Linked DNA regions of Homo sapiens: region 2 is linked to region 1. The links come from fine-mapping of genetic effects on gene expression. A gene starts in region 1. The other region holds a variant in brackets. All regions are shown on one strand. Distances are from middle to middle. Region 1 holds the start of ZNF586 (zinc finger protein 586). Region 2 has its middle 6.4 kb from the start of ZNF776.

What was found. PIP is the estimated chance that this variant, and not a neighbour inherited with it, causes the effect. A credible set is the group of variants that fine-mapping cannot tell apart.
Region 2: its variant is the best candidate, but not a certain one, in a credible set for the expression of ZNF586 in whole blood (TOPMed, PIP 0.56).

What each region holds. Positions count from the first base shown.
Region 1 is chr19:57,766,912-57,772,288 of GRCh38, forward strand. It overlaps ZNF586 (zinc finger protein 586), which reads left to right and starts at 2,765. Exons shown (of 3, transcript NM_017652.4): 1 at 2,765-2,967. The coding sequence starts at 2,932. RefSeq lists enhancers at 2,489-3,028, 2,750-2,999.
Region 2 is chr19:57,737,756-57,743,132 of GRCh38, forward strand. No RefSeq gene overlaps it. Among named protein-coding and RNA genes, the nearest start is that of ZNF776, 6.4 kb to the right of the region's middle. The variant G/A (reference allele first, on the strand shown) is at 2,374.

The DNA of each region.
Region 1 (5,377 bases):
ATTTTGGTGTGGACCCAACAGGAGACCCATCTTGCCTTTGAGATTTCAATTTCTTATGGTACAACATGTTTATGAGCCAACTCACGGGAAATCTGAGAAAATGATTGTTTGGGGAAAGAAATACTACTGGAAACCCTCACCTCCATTACTGAATAAAGTTTACACTAAATATCCAATTTAATTTATACAAAGCATAATCCAAGAAAGCTTTTTTTTTTTTTTTTTTTTGAAACGGAGCCTCACTCTGTCCTCTGTCACCCCGGCTGGAGTGCAGTGGCGCGATCTTGGCTCACTGCAGCCTCCGCCTCCTGGGTTCAAGTGATTCTCCTGCCTCAGCCTCCTGAGTAGCTGGGATTACAGGCATGCGCCACCACACCCAGCTAATTTTTCTATTTTCAGTAGAGACGGGGTTTCACTATGTTGGTGAGGCTGGTCTCGAATTCCTGACCTCGTGATCCGCCCACCTCTGCCTCCCAAAGTCCTGGGATTACAGGCATGAGCCACCGCACCCGGCCAACTTTTTTGTTTGTTTGTTTGTTTGTTTGTTTGAGACGGAGTCTCGCTCTGTCCCCCAGCCTGGAGTGCAGTGGCGTGATCTCGGCTCACTGCAACCTCCGCCTCCCGGGTTCAAGCCATTCTCCTGCCTCAGGCTCCGGAGTAGCTGGGACTACAGGCGCCTGCCACCACGCCCAGCTAATTTTTTTGTATTTTTAGTAGAGACGGGGTTTCATCATATTAGCCAGGATGGTCTCGATCTCCTGACCTCGTGATCCGCCCGCCTCGGCCTCCCAAAGTGCTGGGATTACAGGTGTGAGCCACCGCGCCCAGCCAACTTTTTTTTTAAGTATAGAAAATTTTACAGGTTGGGCGCGGTGGCAGGCGCCTATAATCCCAGCTGCTCGGGGGGCTGAGACAGGAAAATCACTTGAACTTGGCCAAGAGGCGGAGGTTGCAGTGAGCCGAGATCGCAGCAATGCACTCCAGCCTGGGTGACAGAGCGAGACTCCATCTCAAAAAAAAAAAAAAAAAAAGAGGTGGAGATTTCCCAGAACTGAGGTTCCCTCCCCTTTTTAGACTATATAGGGTAACTTCCAAACATTGCCAGGGCATTGGTATACTGTCATGGCGCTGGCGGGAGTTAGTATGCTAATGCATTATAATTAGCGTATAATGAGCAGTGAGGATGACCACAGGTCACTTTCATCACCATCTTGGTTTTGGTGCGTTTTAGCCAGCTTCTTTACTGCATCCTGTTTTATCAGCAGGGTCTTTGTGACCTGCATCTTGTGCCAACCTCCTATCTCATCCTGTGACTAAGAATGCCTAACCTGGGAATGCAGCCGAGTATTTCTCAGCCTTACTTTATCCAGCCCATTTTCAAGATGGAGTCACTCTGATTCCAATGCCACTGACAATGATAAGCACTTGCCAGCAAAGAGGTGAACGCATGGATTTAAGGCACTTGAAATATCTCAGTGTAAAAGCACCCTGTGCATGTAGCAGGACGAGCCGCAGACAAAACCTCTCAGACACCGAGTTGCAGAAGGAAGGGCTTTATTCAGCTGGGAGCATTGGCCAGCTACTGTCTCAAAATCTGAGCTCCCGGAGTGCACAATTTCTGTCCCTTTTAAGGGCTCACAACACTAAAGATTTCACATGAAAGGGTCGTGATTGATTTGAGCAAGCAAGGGGTATGTGACAGGGGCTGCATGCACCGGTGGTCAGGGAGGAACAGAACAGGGCAGGGAGTTTCACAATGTTCTTCTATACAATCTAAGGAATCTATGAATAACATCGGCTTCTAAATCATAAGTTGATTTTTAACTACTGGGTTTAGGCCAGGCGGGCCTAGGCCTGGTTTCGGGCCTGGCGCGGGGTTGCCTGTCTTTGGTTTTACTTCCTTGTTGTTTTTACTGAATATAAAACAATGTGAGAGGGTCTCTCTCTTCTCTCATGCATACATACTCCATGTTTGAACACCGCAGCCATTGTCCTGTAACATAATAGCATTTGTCTCATTAGCTTTTTGATGTTGATATCAGATTTCTAGAGGAATCTGTAGGTTAAAGATATAAATAAAAGTGTTGCTAATGGGCTGAGAACGGTGGTTCACGCCTGTAATCCTAGCACTTCGGTAGACCATTGCAGGCAGATCACTTGAGGCCAGAAGTTCGAGACCAGCCTGGCCAAAATGAGGAAACCCCGTCTCTACTAAAAATACAAAAATTAGCAGGGTATGGTGGCACACGCCTGTAATCCCAGCTACTCGGATGGTTGAGGCACGAGAATCGCTTGAACCCGGGAGGCATAGGCTGCAGTGAGCCAAGATCACACCACTGCACCCCAGCCTGAGTGACAGAGAGAACTATGTCTTAAAAAAAAGACAAAAAAAAAAAAAAAAGGAAGAAGCCGAGCATCACAAATTCTGAAATAAGAAGTCTCCAAACACGCGGGCAATCAGTTGCACACAGTACCCCCAGAAATGTGCGTATGGCCTCTTCTAAGATGGGAGACCCTCCTCCGCATCTGGACCTGGAGTCGCCATTTCCTAGCGCCCCTCGCAGTGGAGCTTGCCCCTTTCTTCGGAAAGTCGGAAGAAAGCCACCTTAAGCGCTGCCCATGTCTGGGAACTACATTACCCAGAATCCGCCCTGCGAAATGGTAACGTGGCTGAGCCAATGAAGCTTCAGAGAAGCCGTGCCATTGCCGGGGCACGTAAAGTCAAGCCAGGACTTCCGGCGTCCTAGCCGTGGCAGCCATTTTGGCCTGTCAGGTCCATCCGGCGATGCTGGGTCTGGACGAGCTCGGGAGGAGTGGTTGTGGCCATTGCACACAGGCGGATCTGAGGTTCGGCGACGCCGCTGGTCGCGACCCGGGACAGGACAACGACAGGAACACCGCCGAGCCCGCGTTCCCCCCCCGCCCAGAGTCATGGCGGCAGCAGCCGCTCTGAGGGCGCCTGCTCAGGTGAGCGCTGCGACCTCCGGGCCTTACCCACCCTACCCACCCAGACCCTGAGGCCCCTGATCGTGAGGGCCGCCTCCTCGCGTCCCTGCAGCCCAGGCCTCTGTCAGGGACGGAGAGGCGCCGGCGGGTGGGATCCCTGTTTCCGACACCCAGTTGATGCGGTCGGCAGAGCGAGACTGGCGGAGGGCAAAGGCCTGCAGGCGCGACTGAGGCAGGAGGATGCGGAACACGGGGACATCGTGTGTCTACTGGGAAAGAAGTGTGATACGGAGTTATTTCTTTTTTTTTTTTTTTTTGAGACGGAGTCTCACTCTGTCGCCCAGGCTGGAGTGCAGTGGCGCGATCTCGGCTCACTGCAAGCTCCACCTCCCCGGTTCAAGCGATTCTCCTGCCTCAGCCTCCCGAGTAGCTGGGATTACAGGCATGCGCCACCACGGGGTTTCACCATGTTGGCTAGGCTGGCCTCGAACTCCTGACCTTAGGTGATCCGCCCACCTCGGCCTCCCAAAGTGCTGGGAATACAGGCGTGAGCCACCGCGCCTGGCCGAGGCGGAGTTGTTTCTTCAGTACCAGGCTGAGGGTTGAACTTTGACTGTGAGGACGCTAAAAGCCATGGACAGTTTTGAACAAAGGAGGAAATCTGTGTTAGAGTTGCGATTCCCAAAAGATGTTCGAAGGAAGAACAGAGTTGAAGGCAGTGATGAGGACATTGAGAGGTTGAATCATTGAGAGGTGACATTGAGCACTGGGCCACAAGATTAGAGACTCAGTCTGAAGTCATCTGGCTGCAGGGCCAAAAAAAGCTTACAGAGAAGCCTGAGTCTATCAAATCCGAGCACAGACACATTTGTGAAAGCCCTGCCTTTTGGCACACCTCATGGCTACAGAAGCACTTACAGAATCCACAGTAGGAAGTAGGGGATGCTCTAGTCCTTCACTGGTCCTCATCCTATCCCACATGTCTAGATCTTGGCATCTTTTTTTTTTTTCGGCGACGGGTTCTCACTCAACACCCAGGCTGGGTTGCGGTGACGCGATCACGGCGCAGCACGGCCTCGACCTCTCCGGGCTCAGGAGAGCCTCTCATCTCAGTCTCCCGAGTAACTGGCTTTTTGTATTTTTAGTAGAGGTGGGGTTTCACGGCCGGGCGCGGTGGCTCACGCCTGTAATCCTAGCACTTTGGGAGGCCGAGGCGGGCGGATCACGAGGTCAGGAGTTTGAGACCATCCTGGCTAACACGGTGAAATCCCCCCTCTACTAAAAATACAAAAAATTAGCCAGGCCTGGTGGCACACACCTGTAGTCCCAACTACTTGGGAGGCTGAGGCAGGAGAATCGCTTGAACCCGGGAGGCAGAGGTTGCAGTGAGCCGAGATCGCGCCACTGCACTCCAGCCTGGGCGACAGAGAAAGACTCCGTCTGAAAAAAAAAAAAAAAAGAGAGAGAGAGAGATGGGGTTTCGCCATGTTGCCCAGGCTAGTCTCGAACCCTTGGGCTCAAGCAGTCCTCTTGCTTCGGCTTCCCAAAGTGCTGGGATGCCAAGCAGGAACTACCGCACCTCCTAGGACACTTAAGTGCCATTTCTCCGGTCCTTCAATCTGGGGATCTTGGAAAAACCTCAAACCCCAAACCTACATCAGTGACATAGGTTATGGGGAGTTGTTGCTATGTCTGTCAACTAATGTAACACATGTGGAGGGTTCACCCAGGAACTGATACTGGGGTGTGCAAATACTTACTTAGAAGTGAAACTAGAGGGGTGAGGTGATGTTACCAATTTCTTAATAGGCGCTGTCTGGTTACTGAGTGGGCAACAGACTGTGGGGTTGAGGGAGGAGGAAGATCAAACTGGAAGCTACTGCCCTAGTCGAGGTGAGGATTAATGGACTAGAGTTGTGGCTTAGGCAATGTGGCTAGATCTGGATTTGTGTTTTTTAGAGGGGCAAGTCAATTTTTTTTTTCCCAAGATGGAGTCTGGACCTGTTGCCCAGGCTGGAGTGCAATAGTGGAATCTTGGCTCACTGCAACCTCCGCCTCCTGAGTTCAAGCGATTCTCCTGCCTCAGCCTCCGAAGTAGCTGGGATTACAGGCGCGCGCCTCCACACCCAGCTAATTTTTGTATTTTTAGTAGAGACTAGGTTTCGCCATATTATCCAGGCTGCCTCGAACTCCTGACCTCGTGATCCACCCGCCTTGGCCTCCCAAAGTGCTGGGATTACAGGCTTGAGCCACCGTGCCCAGCCTGGCAACTCAATTTTTAAATGTGAACAGTGAGAGCTTGAGAGGATTCAGGAAACACCCCTGGGTTTTTTATCTTAGCAGCTGTAGCAATGGGAGCTGCATCAACTGAGATGAGCAAGTTGATAGCAGGTGTAATATTCACTGAGGCTATCAGGAGGTTTGTTTTGGC
Region 2 (5,377 bases), 29 kb before region 1:
CCTGAGTTCTCAGAAATTGAAATAATACACACTTTGTAGAAATAAGAATTTCATGTTAGTCAAGTCTCTAGGATAGCCATGGGCTCCACTTAATTATCTCAGAACTTACAGCCCCATGTCCTCTGCTCACTATCCATTGAGATTTATGTGTTCTCAGACTTCACAGAAACTTTTCTAGCTACTTATGTCATTCTCAGTGGTAACTTCATTTATCCACAATATTAACTAATTTTCTCAGTCCAAGCTGTTTTCCAGAGGTAATCTCCAGTCCCCATGCCGAAACTATCATTGTACTTACTGCTGAAATGATAGTTCCTTCCCAGCAAGAAGGTGAGATTATTGTACCCAGAATCTTTTCTCAGGGTTCAAATATCCACTTTCCCCATGGCAGGAATGCTGACACTCCAGCCACGGTTTTGTAAATGTGAATTAGTAAATACCAACTATTCCCAGGTGAGTGTTGTGGGCAGCAAGCTACCCAGGTGCTGAGGCAAGAGACCGAGGGCATGAGCCATTCCAGTATAATAAAATATATAAAACAACAAGAGTTATACTAGATCTAGATCATAGATGTAATTATATATGAATATCATTAATCATTAGTTTGTAGCAATTACTCTTTATTCCAGTATTATAATAATACTCGCTCTATAATCATAACCTAGAAAAAACCAGGCCATACAGAGATAGGAGCTGAGGGGACACAGTGAGAAGTGACCAGAAGACAAGAGTGCGAGCCTTCTGTTATGTCCAGACAGGGCCACCAGAGGGCTCCTTGGTCTAGCGGTGATGCCAGCATCTGGGAAGTCTGGTCTAGCGGTAGCCTTAGTGTCAAGGAAAAACAACCGCTACTTAGCGGACCGGGAAAGGGAGTCTCCCTTTTCCCCGGGGGGAGTTTAGAGAAGACTCTGCTCCTCCGTCTCTTGTGGAGGGCCTGACATCAGTCAGGCCCACCCGCAGTTATCCGGAGGCCTAACCATCTCCCTGTGATGCTGTGCTTCAGTGGTCACGCTCCTAGTCCACCTTCATGTTCCATCCTGTACACCTGGCTCTGCCTTCTAGATAACAGTAGCAAAATTAGTGAAAGTACTAAAAGTCTCTGATATGCAGAAATAATGGTGTAAGCTGTCTCTCTCTCTCCCTCTCTCTCTCTGCCTTGGCTGCCAGGCAGAGAAGGGCCCCGCGTCCAGTGGACACATGACCCACATGACCTTACCTATCATTGGAGATGACTCACACTCTTTGCCCTGCCTCTTTTGCTTTGTATCCAATAAATAACAGTGCAGCTAGACATTCAGGGCCACTACCAGTCTCCGCGCATTGGTGGTAGTGGTCCCCCGGGCCCAGCTGCCTTTTCTCTTATCTCTTTGTCTTGTGTCTTTATTTCTACACTCTCTCGTCACCGCACACAGGGAGAGACCCACCGACCCTGTGGGGCTGGTCCCTACAGAGTGTTACAATCAGAAGGAACCAGTTCTGCTCTGAGGTTGAGACATACTCTGAGGGACCTGGAGACATGGTGCAACCTCCTCTCCTTGCCTTATGCCTCTCCTCTATATTTCCTCTGAAACCTTCTTTGAATATTCTTCCTTCCATTACTGACTGAAAATATTAAGCCTCACAAAGTCCACTGTAAGATCTTTACCAGTGGGAAATGAAGAAGACTGTTTAAAGTATTTGAGTGGCCATTTAGTGTCTTTATAACATTTTTTGGTTATGCATTTTTGTCTTTTTGGGGGCATGATTTGCAAATTGAGTCTCTGGTATTTTACTAACTTGTGTTTGATGAGTGAAAGAGTTAATACTTCCTCTCCCATTAGTGAAAGGAAAGACACTTCAGAAACATGAATAAAAGATTGTAAATTGGAAATAGTAAGGTAATCAGATATGTAAAGAATCTAGGCCAGGCGTGGTGGCTCACGCCTGTAATCCCAGCATGTCAAGTGATTCTCCTGCCTCCACCTCTCTAGTAGCTGGAATTACAGGCACCTGCCACTACGCCCAGTGAATTTTTGTATTTTTAGTAGAGACAAGGTTTCACCATGTTGGTCATGCTGGTCTAGAACTCCTGACCTCTGGTGATCCACCCACCTCGGCCTCCCAAAGTGCTGAGATTACAGGCATGAGCCACAGCGCCCAGCTTCCTGACATCGCTTAATGCATAATCTCTTCACAGGGTATTTCCAAAGTCCAAGGGCTCTTTCATAACACCTACAACTGGTTCCATCAGAAATGTTTAAAGCATAACAAAATATGTTATCATCGTCCATTTTTTCTATTGTCTCAAAAATATCTTTGTTCTTTAAGCAGCTTCATTGCAATGAAATTCCCAAATGTGGGCGTGGTGGCTCACGCCTGTGGTCCCAGCACTTT[G/A]GGAGGCTGAGGCGGGTGGATCATCTGAGGTTGGGATTTTGAGACCAGCCTGGCCAACATGGTGAAACTCTGTCTCTACTAAATACAAAAATTAAAAAAAAAAAAGAAAGAAATTCCCAAATTTATCCCCATGACTTTTAGTAGTTCTGTCTCATATATCTCTATTAATCTACAGGTATGACTTTCCTTTTTAAAATTCCTTTTTTGTGCGGGGTGTGGGACAGGGTCTTACTCTGTCACCCAGGCTGGAGTGCTGTGACACAATTACAGCTAACTGCAGCCTGGACCTCCCTGGGCTAGGTGATCCTCCCACCTCTGCCTCCCAAGTAGCTGGGACTACAGGCAAGCACCACCATGCCTGGCTAAGCTTTTATTTTTTATTTTTTGTAGAGACTGGGTTTCACAATGTTGCCCAGGCTGGTCTCAGACTCCTGGGCTCAAGCAATCCACCTGCTTTGGCCTCCCAAAGTGCTGGGATTACATACATAACCACAATGCCTGGCCTTAAATTTTATTTTATTTTTTTATTTTTTTTGAGACGGAGTCTCTCTCTGTCACCCAGGCTGGAGTGCAATGGTGCAATCTTGGCTCACTGCAACCTCCGCCTCTCAGGTTTAAGCAGTTCTCTGCCACAGCCTCCCAAGTAGCTGGGATTACAGGCGCCCACCACCACGCCCGGCTAATTTTTGTATTTTTAGTAGAGACGGGGTTTCACCATCTTGGCCAGGCTGGTCTTGAACTCCTGACCTCATGATCCACCCGTCTTGGCCTCCAAAAGTGCTGGGATTAGAGGCGTGAGCCACCGCGCCTGGCCAAAATTTTATTTATTTCTTGAAATTGTGTAATTTTTGTATTAGAATTTATTATACTCTAATTTTTTGTGCATATCTCTGATATGATTTAAGTTGTTTACACATGTATAAGCCATAAGCAAACTAGATATTCTTGAAATGGGTGATTCAGGGGTAGTCCCACATAAGTGTGTGATTATGACACAGCCAGAAACACACAGTTGGATTACATTCTCCCAGCATGCTGTGGTACAGTCTGGAAGCAAAAATTTCAAAGAGTGTATGCTCCTGGTGTGTGACAAGTGCCTGAGGGTTATACTGCAGCACAGCCTATAGACAAAACACATATCCCAGGGACCCTGTGTGACAGGTGTGCAGTATTTAAAGACCTCAGTCCGGCAGGGCACGGTGGCTCACGCCTGTAATCCCAACGCTTTGGGAGGCCGAGGTGGGTGGATCACGAGGTCAAGAGTTTGAGACCAGCCTGGCCAACATGGAGAAATCCTGTCTTTACTAAAAATACAAAAATTAGCCATGGGTTGCGCTCACCTGTAGTCCGAGCTATGCGGGAGGCTGATACAGGAGAGTTGCTTGAACCAGGGAGGCGGAGGTTGCAGTGAGCCAAGATCATGCCACCACAGTCCAGTCTGGGGAAAAGAGTGACCCTGTCTCAAAAAAAAAAAAAAAAATCTCAGTCCATCCTAGAGGTGCCCCTGTTATACCTATAGGACTCTGTGTAAGAGGCATTGGGTACTGGCACCTATTGACAGCCTGAGCCGACATAAATATATACCACACTGACAACAAACCCAAGAGGGAGAGATGTGATCCACACAACCAGCATATTCAGAACCCCAAGGGGCTGTTAGACAGAATGGAGGTGGGGTCATACTGGCCACACAGAAGCACAAATGCTACTCAGAGACTTGGGCTTTTAAATTTGCTGATTACAAAGGTTTAGTGGGAGCATAAGCAGGGTATAATCAAGAAAATTTTACTCCACAATAGATAGAAATATACCTTCCAGTGTGTGTAGTCATAATATAATTGGAACACACAATTTTAAACTTCTAGACATTACTGTAGAGTCCTATGTTGATTAAGAATCATCACAGATATTTCTAGAAAGAAGAAAGCAAAATATTACTGATAGTGAAGATGAAATATGCCTATATAACTTGCTGTCATGCAAGGTAACATTTAGGTATTGAGATTCTTTACATCCCTGATTACATTGCCATTTGTAATTTATAATCTTTTATTTACATTTCTAAAGCATCTTGCTTTTATGTGCCTATATATCATGCTGTCATACAAGATAACATTTAGAGGCCAGGCATGGTGGCTCATGCCTGTAATCCCAGAACATTGGGAGGCTGAGGCAGGTGGATCACCTGAGATCAGGAGTTTGAGACCAGCCTGACCAACATGGAGAAGCCCTGTCTCTACTAAAAATACAAAGTTAGCCAGCTACTAGGGAGGCTGAGGCAGGAGAATCACTTGAATCCAGGAGGCAGAGGTTGCAGTGAGCTGACATGGTGCTATTGCACTCCAGCCTGACAACAAGAGCAAGAAACTCCGTCTCAAAAATAACAAAAATGAGAGATATCAGGATTATAAGTAAAACAGCATAGTAATACACTTAAGAATAGATAATCGGTCAGATGTGGTGGCTCATGCCTGTAATCCCTGCACTTTGGAGAGCCGAGGTGGATGGATCACCTGAGGTTGGGAGTTGGAGACCAGCCTGACCCTTTTTTTTTTCTAGTAGAGACAGGAGAAACCCTATCTCTACTAAAAAAAAAAAAAAAAAAAAAAAAACACACACAACCAAATTAGCCGGGCGTGGTGGCACATGCCTATAATTCCATCTACTCGGGAGGCTGAGGCAGGAGAATTGCTTGAACCTGGGAGGCAGAGGTTGTGTTGAGCCAGGATTGTGCCATAGCACTTCACGCTGGGCAGCAAGAGCAAAACTCCGTCTCAAAGAAAAAAAAAAAAAAAAAATTAGCCGGGCGTAATGGCACTGTAATCCCAGCTGCTTGGGAGGCTGAGCCCTGAGAATTGCTTGAACCCAGGAGGTGGAGGTTGCAGTAAGCTGAGATTGCCTCACTGCACTCCAGCCTGGGCGACACAGCAAGACTCTGTCTCAAAAAAAAAAAAAAAAAAGCCGGGCGCAGTGGCTCACGCCTGTAATCCCAGCACTTTGGGAG